Regions from separate parts of the Homo sapiens genome. Here region 1 is linked to region 2. The links come from fine-mapping of genetic effects on gene expression. Tissue or cell type: whole blood. Region 2 holds a variant in brackets; the other region holds the start of a gene. All regions are shown on one strand. Distances are from middle to middle.

What was found. PIP is the estimated chance that this variant, and not a neighbour inherited with it, causes the effect.
Region 1: ITCH starts here. The variant in region 2 is fine-mapped to the expression of ITCH in whole blood (TOPMed, PIP above 0.99).

The regions. Positions count from the first base shown.
Region 1 is chr20:34,360,540-34,366,369 of GRCh38, forward strand. ITCH (itchy E3 ubiquitin protein ligase) reads left to right here and starts at 2,734. Exons shown (of 25, transcript NM_031483.7): 1 at 2,734-2,810. RefSeq lists a silencer at 3,039-3,268.
Region 2 is chr20:34,403,310-34,409,139 of GRCh38, forward strand. It overlaps ITCH (itchy E3 ubiquitin protein ligase), which reads left to right. Exons shown (of 25, transcript NM_031483.7): 4 at 5,342-5,483. Among named protein-coding and RNA genes, the nearest start is that of ITCH, 43 kb to the left of the region's middle. The variant G/T (reference allele first, on the strand shown) is at 3,222.

The sequences.
Region 1 (5,830 bases), 43 kb before region 2:
AGTCTCCGTCTCCTGAGTTCAAGCAATTCTCCCACCCCAGCCTCCCGAGTAGCTGAGATTACAGGGGTGTGCCATGCCCAACTAATTTTTGCATTTTTTTTTTTGAGACAGATTCTCGCTCTGTGGCCCAGGATGGAGTGCAGTAGCACGATCTTGGCTCACTGCAACCTCCGCCTCCCAGGTCCAAGCAATTCTCTGCCTCAGCCTCCTGACTAGCTGGGATTACAGGCACCCGCCACCACGCCCGGCTAATTTTTGTATTTTTAGTAGAGATAGGGTTTCACCATGATAGCCAGGCTGGTCTTGAACTCCTGATCTCGTGATCCGCCCGCCTTGGCCTCCCAAAGTGCTGGGATTATAGGCGTGAGCCACCGTGCCCGGTCTAATTTTTGCATTTTTAGTAGAGATGGGGTTTCACCATGTTAGCCAGGCTGGTCTTGAACTCCTGACCTCAGTTGATCCATCCGCCTCGGCCTCCCAAACCATGCCCAACAAATTTTTGCATTTTTAGTAGAGACAAGATTTCACCATGTTGGCCAGGCTGGTCTCAAACTCCTGACCTCAGGTGATCCACCCGCCTCAGCCTCCCGAAGTGCTGGGATTATAGGAGTGAGCTACTGCGCCCAGCCTTTATGTTTCTTTTGTTGTTTGTTTTTTGAGACAGAGTCTCGCTGAGTCGCCCAGGCTGGAGTGCAATGGCGTGATCTTGGGTCACTGCAACCTCCCCCTCCTGGGTTCAATCAATTATCGTGCTTCAGCCTCCCAAGTAGCTGGGATTACAGGCACCCGCCACCACACCTGGCTAATTTTTGTGTTTTTAGTAGGGAAGGGGTTTCACAAGGCTAGGCGTGGTGGCTCACCCAACTCTACTAAAAATACAAAAATTAGCCAGGCGTGATGGCATGCGCTTGTAGTCCCAGCTACTTAGGAGGCTGAGACAGGAGAATCACTTGAACCCAGGAGGCGAGCGGAGGTTGCAGTGAGCCAAGATTGCGCCACTGCACTCCAGCCTGGGCGACAGAGCAATACTCTGTCTCAAAAAAAAAAAAAAAAAAAAAAAGAGACGGGGTTTCACCATGTTGGCCAGACTGGTCTCAAACTCCTGACCTCAAGTGATTTGCCTGCCTTGGCCTCCCTAACTCCTGGGATTACAGGTGTAAGCCACTGACCCTAGCCAAGCCTAGGAGTCTGAGAACAGCCTGGGCAACACAGGGAGTCCACGTCTCTACAAAAATAAAAACAATTAGGATAGTGTGGTGGCTTGAGCCTGGAGTCCCAGCTACTCAGGAAGCTGAGGTGAGAGGATCACTTGAGCCCAGGAGGTTGGCTGCAGTGAGCTATGATTGCACCGCTGCACTCCAGGTTGGGTGACAGAGCAAGACTCTGTCTCAAAAAAAAAAAAAAAAAAAAAGTCACTTTGAAAAATGTGACTTTCCAGATGGCAAAATACTATTTTCATTAGGAGGAAACAGGCTAAACAGTAATAGCAAAGGTCACTAAGTATTGAGCACTTAGTCATACCTCTGAGTCTCTGCCTGCATAGCCTATTATTTCTCACAAGCAATCCATGAAGAAGGTTAAGACAACGGACTTTCACGCCAGACTGCCTGGGTTCTTATCAAGTATGTGACTTAGTTTATATATTTGTAAAATGGGGATAATAATGGTATTTCTGTAATAGGTTTGTTGTGAGAATAAAGGGAGCTTGGTATCAGCTCTTAGAATACCGGACAGGCCACGTTGGCTCCACTAAGCTGTTGTCATCATCCCTAAGGGCACCCAGTTAAAAGGTAGAAAAGGGAGGATTTGAATCCGGTCAGTGTAACTCTCAAGTGTACATTTTTTTTCTTTTATTTTCTTTTTAACCACGCCCTTTAATGTACATTGTTAAAGGCTAAGCCAGGCCAGGTGCAGTGGCTCACATCTGTAATCTCAGCGATTGGGAGGCCCGAGGAGGGAGTATCGCTTGAGCCCAGGAGCTGGAGACCAGCCTGGGCAACATGGCGACACCGTGGCCCTATTCCCGCCCCATCCCATCCGCACTCCACCCCATCCCCATCTCTACAAAGAATAGAACAAAATTAGTCGGGTGTGGTGGTGCTCAACTGCTGTCCCAGCTACTCAGGAAGCCCAGGTGGGAGGCTCGCTTGAGCCCAGGAGTGTGAGGCTGTAGTGAGCTATGACTGCACCACTGCACTCCAGCCTGGGTGAAGGGTGAGACCTTATCTCAAAAAGAAGAAAAAAAAAGAAAAGGAAAAGAAAAAGAAAAAAGAACAACTAAGTTATAAACTAAGCTATATAGCCCATTGGTTCTCAAATTATGATTTCACTCACTAGCAGTATCACTAGACAGCTTGTTGGACATGCAAATTATCAGACCCTATCCTCCTATGCCAGATCTTCTGATCAGAAACTCTGGGGGTGGGGGTCAGCAGTGTAAGTTTTAATAAGCTCTCTAGGTGATTCTGATGCACACCATAGTTTGAGAATCACAGTCCTTATAGGCTCTGGTGGGCGGGGTGTTAAAAAAAAAAAAAAGCCTGGAGGTGCTGGGAGCCGCTCGCGCCCATCTCACCTGGAGCTGAGGAAAACTGGGATTTAACTGATTTACCACCGCAGCCAGCTCTTCAAGCCAGGGGCGGGCCGGACGGCTGGCGCGCAAGGCCTGCTGGGGCTTGTAGTCTAGACCACTTCCGCGCTCAGGCGCCTGCGCTTTAGCTGCTAACTCGCTCTAGTAGCTGTGGTCGGGGCTCGGGACCGGCTGCCATCTTAGTCTAGGGACTGAGGAGTCGCCGCCGCCCCGAGTCCCGGTAAACCCCCGTGGGCGAACTCGGGGCAGTTCTCGGGAGAGGGAGGGAGTCCGGATGAGAATGTTCGGGGAGAACAAGGGTAGAGGAGTGGGACGCGCGGTTCGGGACCCCAGAGCCGCGGCTGCTCCTTCTTCCAGAGCCGGTGTCTGTCGGGGGCGCGGGGAGCTCGGGCTACTGGCCCGGGCCGGGCGGTGGGGGTGGGCTGTCTGGACGTTCGGAGGGATCAGTGTCTGGCACAGGCTTCCGGAGGCCTTCGCCTCGCGGGCTCCAAGTTGTGAAAGGGCTGGGCCACGACGGGCGTGGGTACCGTCCGGCCCCTCGCCCCTCAGCCCCGCCTGGGGCCACTCTCCAGCGGTTCGGCCTACGCGCGGGGCCCGGCGGCGGGGCCGGCGCGGGCGACGTGGCCCTGTGAGGGGCGGCGGCCGGGTCCCCCGCCACCCAGCTGGCCTTCTCGAGACTTTTCCGAGCCCCCAGTCGCTAGAAGGGCCCAGCACAGCGGCTGCCTCCCCTTCTCTCTCCCACTCGCCTCCTCCTTCCATTGTCCCCCCGGCGTGGTGGTCCCGGCTCCGGCGCCCTCCCCGACGTCCGCCACCGTCGTGGCGGCGCCGACTTTTGCAGACGTGGAGCTGTCACTGCCCTTCCTCCGGAGAGTGCCCTTTTCTTTAGCAGAGAAAAGAAAAAAGTAGCCGTTGAACGTATTCTAAGGGTCGAAGCATGATGACATGACTTTTAAGTGGAGAACTCAAGTTTTCCAAGACAGTTCCCGTCCGCGACAGAAAAGAGAATCGCAGAATTTGTGCGCCCGAAGTAGACGCTGGGCCTAAAGTTAGTTGGACATGTAACCAGGTGAACTTGTAAAGGGCCAGGAATTCATTATCCCCAATAACAACGCAACCTTGTTTTCTTGGTTGTATTCGTATCCTAATCTTATTACATTTTCTGCCATTCTTCCACAGCTACAGTATACTTGGTTTGGAGTGGGGGATGGGGAATTGTGGGATTTTTGCCTTGAAAATTAGTAAGACCCTGGAGCCAGCCACCCACTTAGGTGGGTTCTCCTGCATCTTTTCCTGATAGAATTCGATCTTCAGGAAGTATGTAAAGGCAGTGTATTTCCATTCTCAAAATCGGCTAAGGAATGGTTTATCAGTTGAGGTGAAGTTCTCATGGCAGATCTGCTGAGAGCTTGCTATGTGTATTTACAGGTTTATTTAAGCTACGATTTATTTTTAAAATTAAGAAATGGGCCGGGTGCTGTGTGTGGCTCACGCCTGTAATCCTAGCACTTTGGGAGGCCGAGGCGGGCAGATCATGAGGTCAGGAGTTCGAGACCATCCTGACCAACATGGTGAAACCCCGTCTCTACTAAAAATACAAAAAAAAAAAAAAAAAAATCCTGGGCGTGGTGGCGCGCGCCTGTAGTCCCAGCTACTAGGGAGGCTGAGGCAGGAGAATGGCTTGAACCCGGGAGGTGGAGGCTGCAGTGAGCCGAGATCTCGCTGCTGCACTCCAGCCTGGGCGACAGAGCGAGACTCCGCCTCAAAAAAAAAAAAAAAAAAAAAGCAATGGGATGGGTGTGGTGGCTCACGCCTGTAATCCCAGCAATTTGGGAGGCCGAGGTGGGCGGATTACGTGAGCCCAGGAATTGGAGATCAGCCTGGGCAACATCGTGAAACCCCGTCTCTACAAAAAATACAAAGATTTGCCGGGTGTGGTGGCAGGCGCCTGTGGTCCCAGATACTCAGGAGGCTGAGGTGGGGGAATCACCTGATTCCGGGGGGTCGAGGCTGCGGTGAGCTGTTACCGTTGCCACTGCATTCCAGCCTGGGTGACAGAGTGAGACCCTGTCTCAAAAAATAAAAAAAAAAATTTAGAAATGAAGGTGGAAATTCTACTGCTTCTTTGAACTGTGAATTTAAGTTTTGTGAGTCCAAAAGGAATTCCATTACATTCAGCATACAGGTCAAGTCACCAAGGATATCATATGAAATTAAAAAAATGAGTACAGACTACTTCTTCAGTGTATTCTAGAATCAAACATTTCTACATTCTTTAGAAAAAAATACATCTTTTTCGTTTGTTTGAGACGGAATCTAACTTTGTCACCCAGGCTGGAGTACAGTGGTGTGATCTCGGCTTACTGTAACCTCCGCCTCCCGGGTTCCAGCAATTCTTCTGCCTCAGCCTCCGTAGTAGCTGGGACTACAGGCGCGTGCCACCACTCCCGGTAATTTTTTTGTATTTTTTAGTAGAGATGGGTTTTCACCATATTGGCTAGGCTGCTCTCGAACTCCTGACCTCGTGATCCACCTGCCTTGGCCTCCCAAAGTGCTGGGTTTACAGGCATGAGCCGCCACTCCTGGCCCTAAAAAATACATCTTTTCACTTATTGGGAGAGGCAGACAAACCAGTAGTCCCCAAATTTGACCATTAGAATAATTAGGAGAGCTTAGAAATTCCAGGGTCTTACCTTCTGAGATGGATTTAGTAGGTCTGGGTTGGCTTCAACCAATTTATTTTTAACACATGCCTTAGGTAATTCTGATGGTCTTGGGAACCACTGAGGGCAAATGGTACTGTAGACTTACCAAGGAAAGGTCAAAAAGCTTTGAGACGAAAGAGGAAGTGGCCAATTCTGTGTGTGTGGCTGGGTGGAGGATTGGTTAGAAGAGGCAAGATTTGCCCCTGAACCCACATTGGGTCTTACATGAAGAGTAGGAGTGTGAAAAGGGCGGGGAAAGAGAAGGACAGGGTAGGCTGAGTGAATGCCTTAATGCTGTGTGTAAATTCAGAGGATTATGGAACAAAAAGGGTTCAGGGAGTGTGGAGTGGAATGGGGAAGGAGAGCATTTTGAAACGCAAGGTCAGAAAGGTTAAAGGAAGCAAGTATATGAAAAGTGATTTTTTGTTGTTGAGACTGGGTCTCACCCAGTCACGCAGGATGGAGTGCAGTGACAGGACCTCCAGAGCTCAAGTGATCTTCCCACCCCAGCCTCCCTGAGTAGCTGGGACAACAGGCA
Region 2 (5,830 bases):
AATCAGTTCAAAGCACTGACCTTCAGAACAGAAGGATCAGAGGAACATTAGTTTAAGCCATGAAAACTATTTGCATTAGTATGTGGGTATGTGTGAGAGAGAGAGAGCACATGCATGGGAGAGTGAGATAGCCAGCAAGTGATTATAATAAAGCAGAGAGACAGAGACTAGAAAGCAGGGAAACTTTTGTTTTCTACCATGACTAATAACAATTTGGTTCAACATGTATATTAAATACCTCTCAGATTAAATCCCAGAGTGCTCCAGAAATTGTAAAGATTGGCTATATCTGTGCAATCAAGAGGCTCACGGGGTGAGTTAAATGAGTAAAAACTAGTAAGACAAAATGAAAAGCTGACGGAGCCATACGTAAATATGGAAATACTCTGGAAGCATGGAGGTGGAAATAATTTAACTTCTTAGGATTAAAGAAGCCTTTAATCAAAGAGAAGGGGGATGTTTATCTCTCAGGAAATATAATTTTAATGGGTATAAAAGAAAAAAGGATCATTCTCAGTAGAGGGAGCAGCATGTTTAGAGGAATGAAAGTACATGGCCCATGTGAGGAACAGCAAATAACTAAGGGTGGCTAGAATATAGAACTTTGGTAAGATTTGTTTTAGTAGGAGGCTGGAAGGGTAAGTTATAGCTGCATACTAAGCAAGGTAAAATGCCCCATAAGAGTTTAAACTTCATTTTTCAGGCAATAAAGAATCATTTAAGTAATGACATTAATGACATGATCACATCTATTCTAGGAAAATAATTCTGGTGGCTGTGAGGGGTTGGATTGGAGAAGTGAGAGTAAAAACAGTTGTTTAGAGGCCTCTCATAGTAGCCCAGGTGTCAGATGAGACTGACATTTTTCTGGTCCTTTTTCTTCCGGTTTATAATGTATAGTTTTTTATTTTTTTGTTTAATTTACTGTGGGACTTTAGTTTTCAGAAAGTAGTACATTGATTTATTTTATATTTGTAATATTATGACTATAACACAAGGTTTTGTTCAATCTAGACTTTGAGATTTGAATACTGAAATAATTTCTCCTGTCCAGGTTTTGCAGTGTGACCCTTGGGCAAATTTTTAAATTTCACAGAGCTTCTGTCTTTTTTTTTTTTTTTTTTTTTGAGATGGAGTTTCACCCTTGTCACCCAGGCTGGAGTGCAATGGCATGATCTCAGCTCACTACAACCTCTGCCTCCCGGGTTGCAGTGATTCTCCTGCCTCAGCCTCCTGAGTAGCTGGGATTACAGGCGCCTGCCACCATGTCTGGCTAATTTTTGTATTTTTAGTAGAGACAGGGTTTCACCATGTTTGTCAAGCTGGCTCCTGACCCCCGTTGATCCTTTTGACTGAGACTTCCAAAGTGCTGGGATTACAGGTGTGAGCCACCACGTTCGGCCGCTTCTCTTTTTATGTGTAAAAATTAGGACAGTAATACCTGTTTCGCAGAATAGGTATTGATATTGAAATGACATTTACGTGCAGGCACATGGTAAATACTAAAATTGGTGCTCCTCCACCCCCATGTAAAGTTTGTTAGGCCAGGCCTGGTGGCTCATGCCTGTAATTCCACCACTTTGGTAGGCCTAGGTAAGTGGATCTCTTGAGCCCAGGAGTACAAGACCAACTTGGGCAACATGTCAAAAGCTTGTCTCTACCAGAAAAAAAATACAAAAATTTCCTGGATGTGGTGGCACGCACCTGTAGTCCCAGCCACTTGGGAGGCTGAGATGGGAGGATGGCTTGAGCCCAGGAGGTAGAGGTGGTTGCAGTGACCTGAGATTGTGCCACTATTCTCCAGCCTGGGTGACAGAACCAGACCCTGTCTCAAAAAAAAAAAAAAAAAAAAAAAGGTTTCAGTGGGGTTTGGTAGGATTATGTAGCAAAATTGCTTTCACAAATTTGAATCCAGCTGGGCACAGTGGCTCACGCCTGTAATTCCAACACTTTGAGGGGCCGAGGCAAGTGGATCACCTGAGGTCAGGAGTTTGACACCAGCCTGACCAACATGGTGAAACCCCGTTTCTACTAAAAATACAAACATTAGCTGGGTGTGGCGGCGCGTGCCTATAACCCCAGCTGCTTGGGAGGCTGAGGCAGGAGAATCGCTTGAACCCGGCAGGCGGAGGTTGCAATGAGCTAAGATTGTGCCATTGCACTCTAGCCTGGGCAACAAGAGCGAAACTCCTATCTCAAAAAAAAAAAAAAGTTTGAATCCTAGAAAGCCCCAACAGGGGCAGATCATTTCCTTCCTGTCAGCCTTGCGTTGCTCTTTGTTCTAGGTTTAATCAGTTTCAGAGTGCCACAAGAGGCCCTGAAATATAATGAGTGTATGTATAATTGTTTGGGCTATTTCACCTTTTCTTAGACCAGAAATGTATTAAAAGTAGAAATTTTATGTTTTTCTGTGTAATCCTGTGATTAAATTTGGCTCTATATTAAGCACTAGAGCTTTGATTTAATAGTACTTTTTTTTTATTTTTTATTTTTTAATAGAGATGAGGTCTCACTGTGTTGTCCAGGCTGGTCTTAAACTCCTGGGCTCAAGTGATCCTCCCGCCTGGGTCTCCCAAAGTGCTGGTATTACGTGCCCGGCCTATTACATTTTAATCAGAGATAGCTCTGGTCCCCACTTGAATATTTTTTATTCTGAAAAAGACTTTCTATTTCATGTTTCCACTTAGATGTCTCAGCATCTGGCATCTGAAACAATTTTTTTTTTTTTTTAAAAGACAGTTTTGCTCTGTTGCCCAGGCTGGATTGCAGTGGTGCAATCACAGCTCACTGCAGCCTTGACCTCCCAGGCTTAAGCGATCCTCCTGCCTCAGCCTCCCCCCAGCAGCTGGGACTACAGGTGCACGCCATCATGCCTGGCTAATTTTTAAAATTATCTTTTGTAGAGACGGGGGTCTCACTATGTTGACCAGGCTTTGTTCAAACTCCTGGGCCTCAAGTGATCTTCCTGCCTCAGCCTCCCAAAGTGCTGGGATTACAAGTGTGAACCACCATGCTTGATCTTGTCTATTTGTCTAGCCTTCTCTTGCAACTCTTCTTTTTCTTCAGTCAGTCATTCTGTGGCTAGCTTGAATGCCAGCAAAAAGGCACATAAGCCTAAAAGGATGGAAGTATTTGATATATGTAAAGTCAGAGTTTCAGGGCCACCACCTGGGACTATGCCTGCTTAGATATCCAGACTTTGGACTATATATTAAGCTGCT[G/T]CTTCTTTTTTTTTTTTTTTTCGAGATGGAGTCTTGCTCTGTCACCCAGGCTGGAGTGCAGTGGCGCAATCGCGGCTCACTGCAATCTCCGCCTCCCAGGTTCACACCATTCTCCTGCCTCAGCCTCCCGAGTAGCTGGGACTACAGGCGCTCGCCACCACGCCCGGCTAATTTTTTGTATTTTTAGTAGAGACAGGGTTTCACCATGTTAGCCAGGATGGTCTCGATCTCCTGACCTCGTGATCCGCCCGTCTCAGTCTCCCAAAGTGCTGGGATTACAGGCGTGAGCCACCGCACCCGGCTATATTAAGCTTCTTAAGTAGTTACTATATAAACTCCTCTGACAACTCCAAGGGTTCCTTAACTTTGATGAGCATTAGCATTCTCTGAACTTTGCTGCTACAGTAGATAACCTGGGTGGTGGAGTAGATAACCTGGGTGGTGGGTACTTCCTTGGTTGTAGTTACCTCATCTATGAGGGAGCAATGACTTGCCACCTATGGAAATCATGGGGTGCTTTGCTAGATTTCTACTTGTTATACCCTGTAAGGGGCCTGGACAAAGCTATTTTATGGCAAAGGTAACTAAAAGGTGAAGGCTAAGGAGTTTGTATCTCAAGATGCACAACATAGGAAGCTCTTCCTTAGATAATATGAGATGTTAAAAAAAAAATCTTAGTTTGTAGTTCTTATTCTTCCATTGGCTTTCCAACACACAGAATAAAATCTAAATTATCATTATTATTATTATTTTTGATACGTAGGCTCACTCTGTCGCCCAGGCTGGAGTGCAGTGGCATAATCTCGGCTCACTGCAACCTCCACCTCCCGGGTTCAAGCAATTCTCCTGCCTCAGCCTCCTGAGTAGCTGGGATTACAGGCGCCTGCCACCACACCTGGCTAAGTTTTGAAATTTTTTAGTAGAGACGAGGTTTCGCCATGTTGGCCAGGCTGGTCTTAAACTCATGACCTCAGGTGATCCACCCGCCTCAGTCTCCCAAAGTGCTGGGATTACAGATGTGAGCCGCTGCGCCCAGCTGCAGATTCTTTATCTTGGTTTATAAAGCTCCCATACAAAGCTTATCTCCCTTCATTTACCATTCCTTCCTGTGCTTGCTATACTTTCCCTCAGATATGCCATACTCATTTGCCTCTCTCTGGAATGCTGTCTTATTCCCACCTCCAGTCTTCCCATGGCTGGCTCCTTGTCATTTGGATGGTTGCTTAAAAGTCTTCTCAAAGGCCTTCCTTACTACCAAGTCATTTTCTGTCACATCAGCCTGTTTTTCATCATAAATACTTTAATTAGAATATAATCTCCTTGAAAGCCAGATCCTTTTCTTTACTGTTAATTGCTTTAGGGACAGAGTTTAGAGCAGTATCTGACACATGGTAGGCATTCAGATGTTTGTTGACCATGTTTGTCAATGCATACATTTTGTTTTGAGATATGGTCTCGCTGTGCTGCCCAGGCAGGTCTTAAACACCTAGGCTCAAGCAGTCCTCCTGCCTCAGCCACCTGAGTAGCTGAGATTACGGGTGCAAGCCACCCTGCCCAGCCATATGTGTACTTTTTAAATTTTTCCTCCTGTTGCCCAAGCTGTTGCACAACCATAGCTCACTGAAGCCTTGACCTCCTGGACTCAAGCGATTCTCCTACCTCAGCCTCCCAGGTAGCTGGGACTGGCACACGCCACTGTGCCCAGCTAATTTTTTTGATTTTTAGGCGAGATGAGGTCTCGCTATGTTTTCCAGATTGGTCTTCGACTACTGAGCTTAGGCAATCCTCTTGCCTCAGCCTCCCAAAGTTCTGGGATTAGAGGTGTAACCCGCTGCACCTGGCCCATATGTGTACTTTTTAATTGATCTGAGTTCTGGACTTTTGATACCATGGAATTCTACTGATGGGAATTTGGGTTGATGGTACGGGGAACCTCTATATTTATTTACTAGGATGGGAGGAAGTACAAAGGTTATGAGTGAATAAAATTGGTAAGTATTTTAGAGCAAAACTGCTTCTCTGAGTAAATTTAGTAAATCTGCCTAATTATGAAGTTAAATTGATTTCATGAGTGAATTAACATCTCAACTATTGAAATGTTTTTCATTTCTTTTACATAGTCATCTCAGCAAAACTTAAGGAAAATAAGAAGAATTGGTTTGGACCAAGTCCTTACGTAGAGGTCACAGTAGATGGACAGTCAAAGAAGACAGAAAAATGCAACAACACAAACAGTCCCAAGTGGAAGCAACCCCTTACAGTGTAAGCTTGGAAGTATTTTTCTGTAGTATGTTTTGTTTAGTAGATGATTGGAAATACAATTTAAAAAAATGTTTCTCACTTTGGTTTTTTGTTGTTGTTGTTCCTCCTTTCTCTCTTCTTTTTTTTTTTTTCTTTTTCCTAGGACTCCTTCTGGTTTGCTTTTTTGTTTCTCTTTAGATAGCTGTTTTTATAGTCACTCCCTTTCTTTACCTTCTCTAGTTTAGTTGGTGATGATATTGCTCTTGTCACTGAACAATAGCTGAAGAGAGCCCATGGTCACGGACCTAAAAAGATTTCTGGCAGCACTTTTTATTAACTTTGGGTTGAATTAAGGGATTATGAGTACT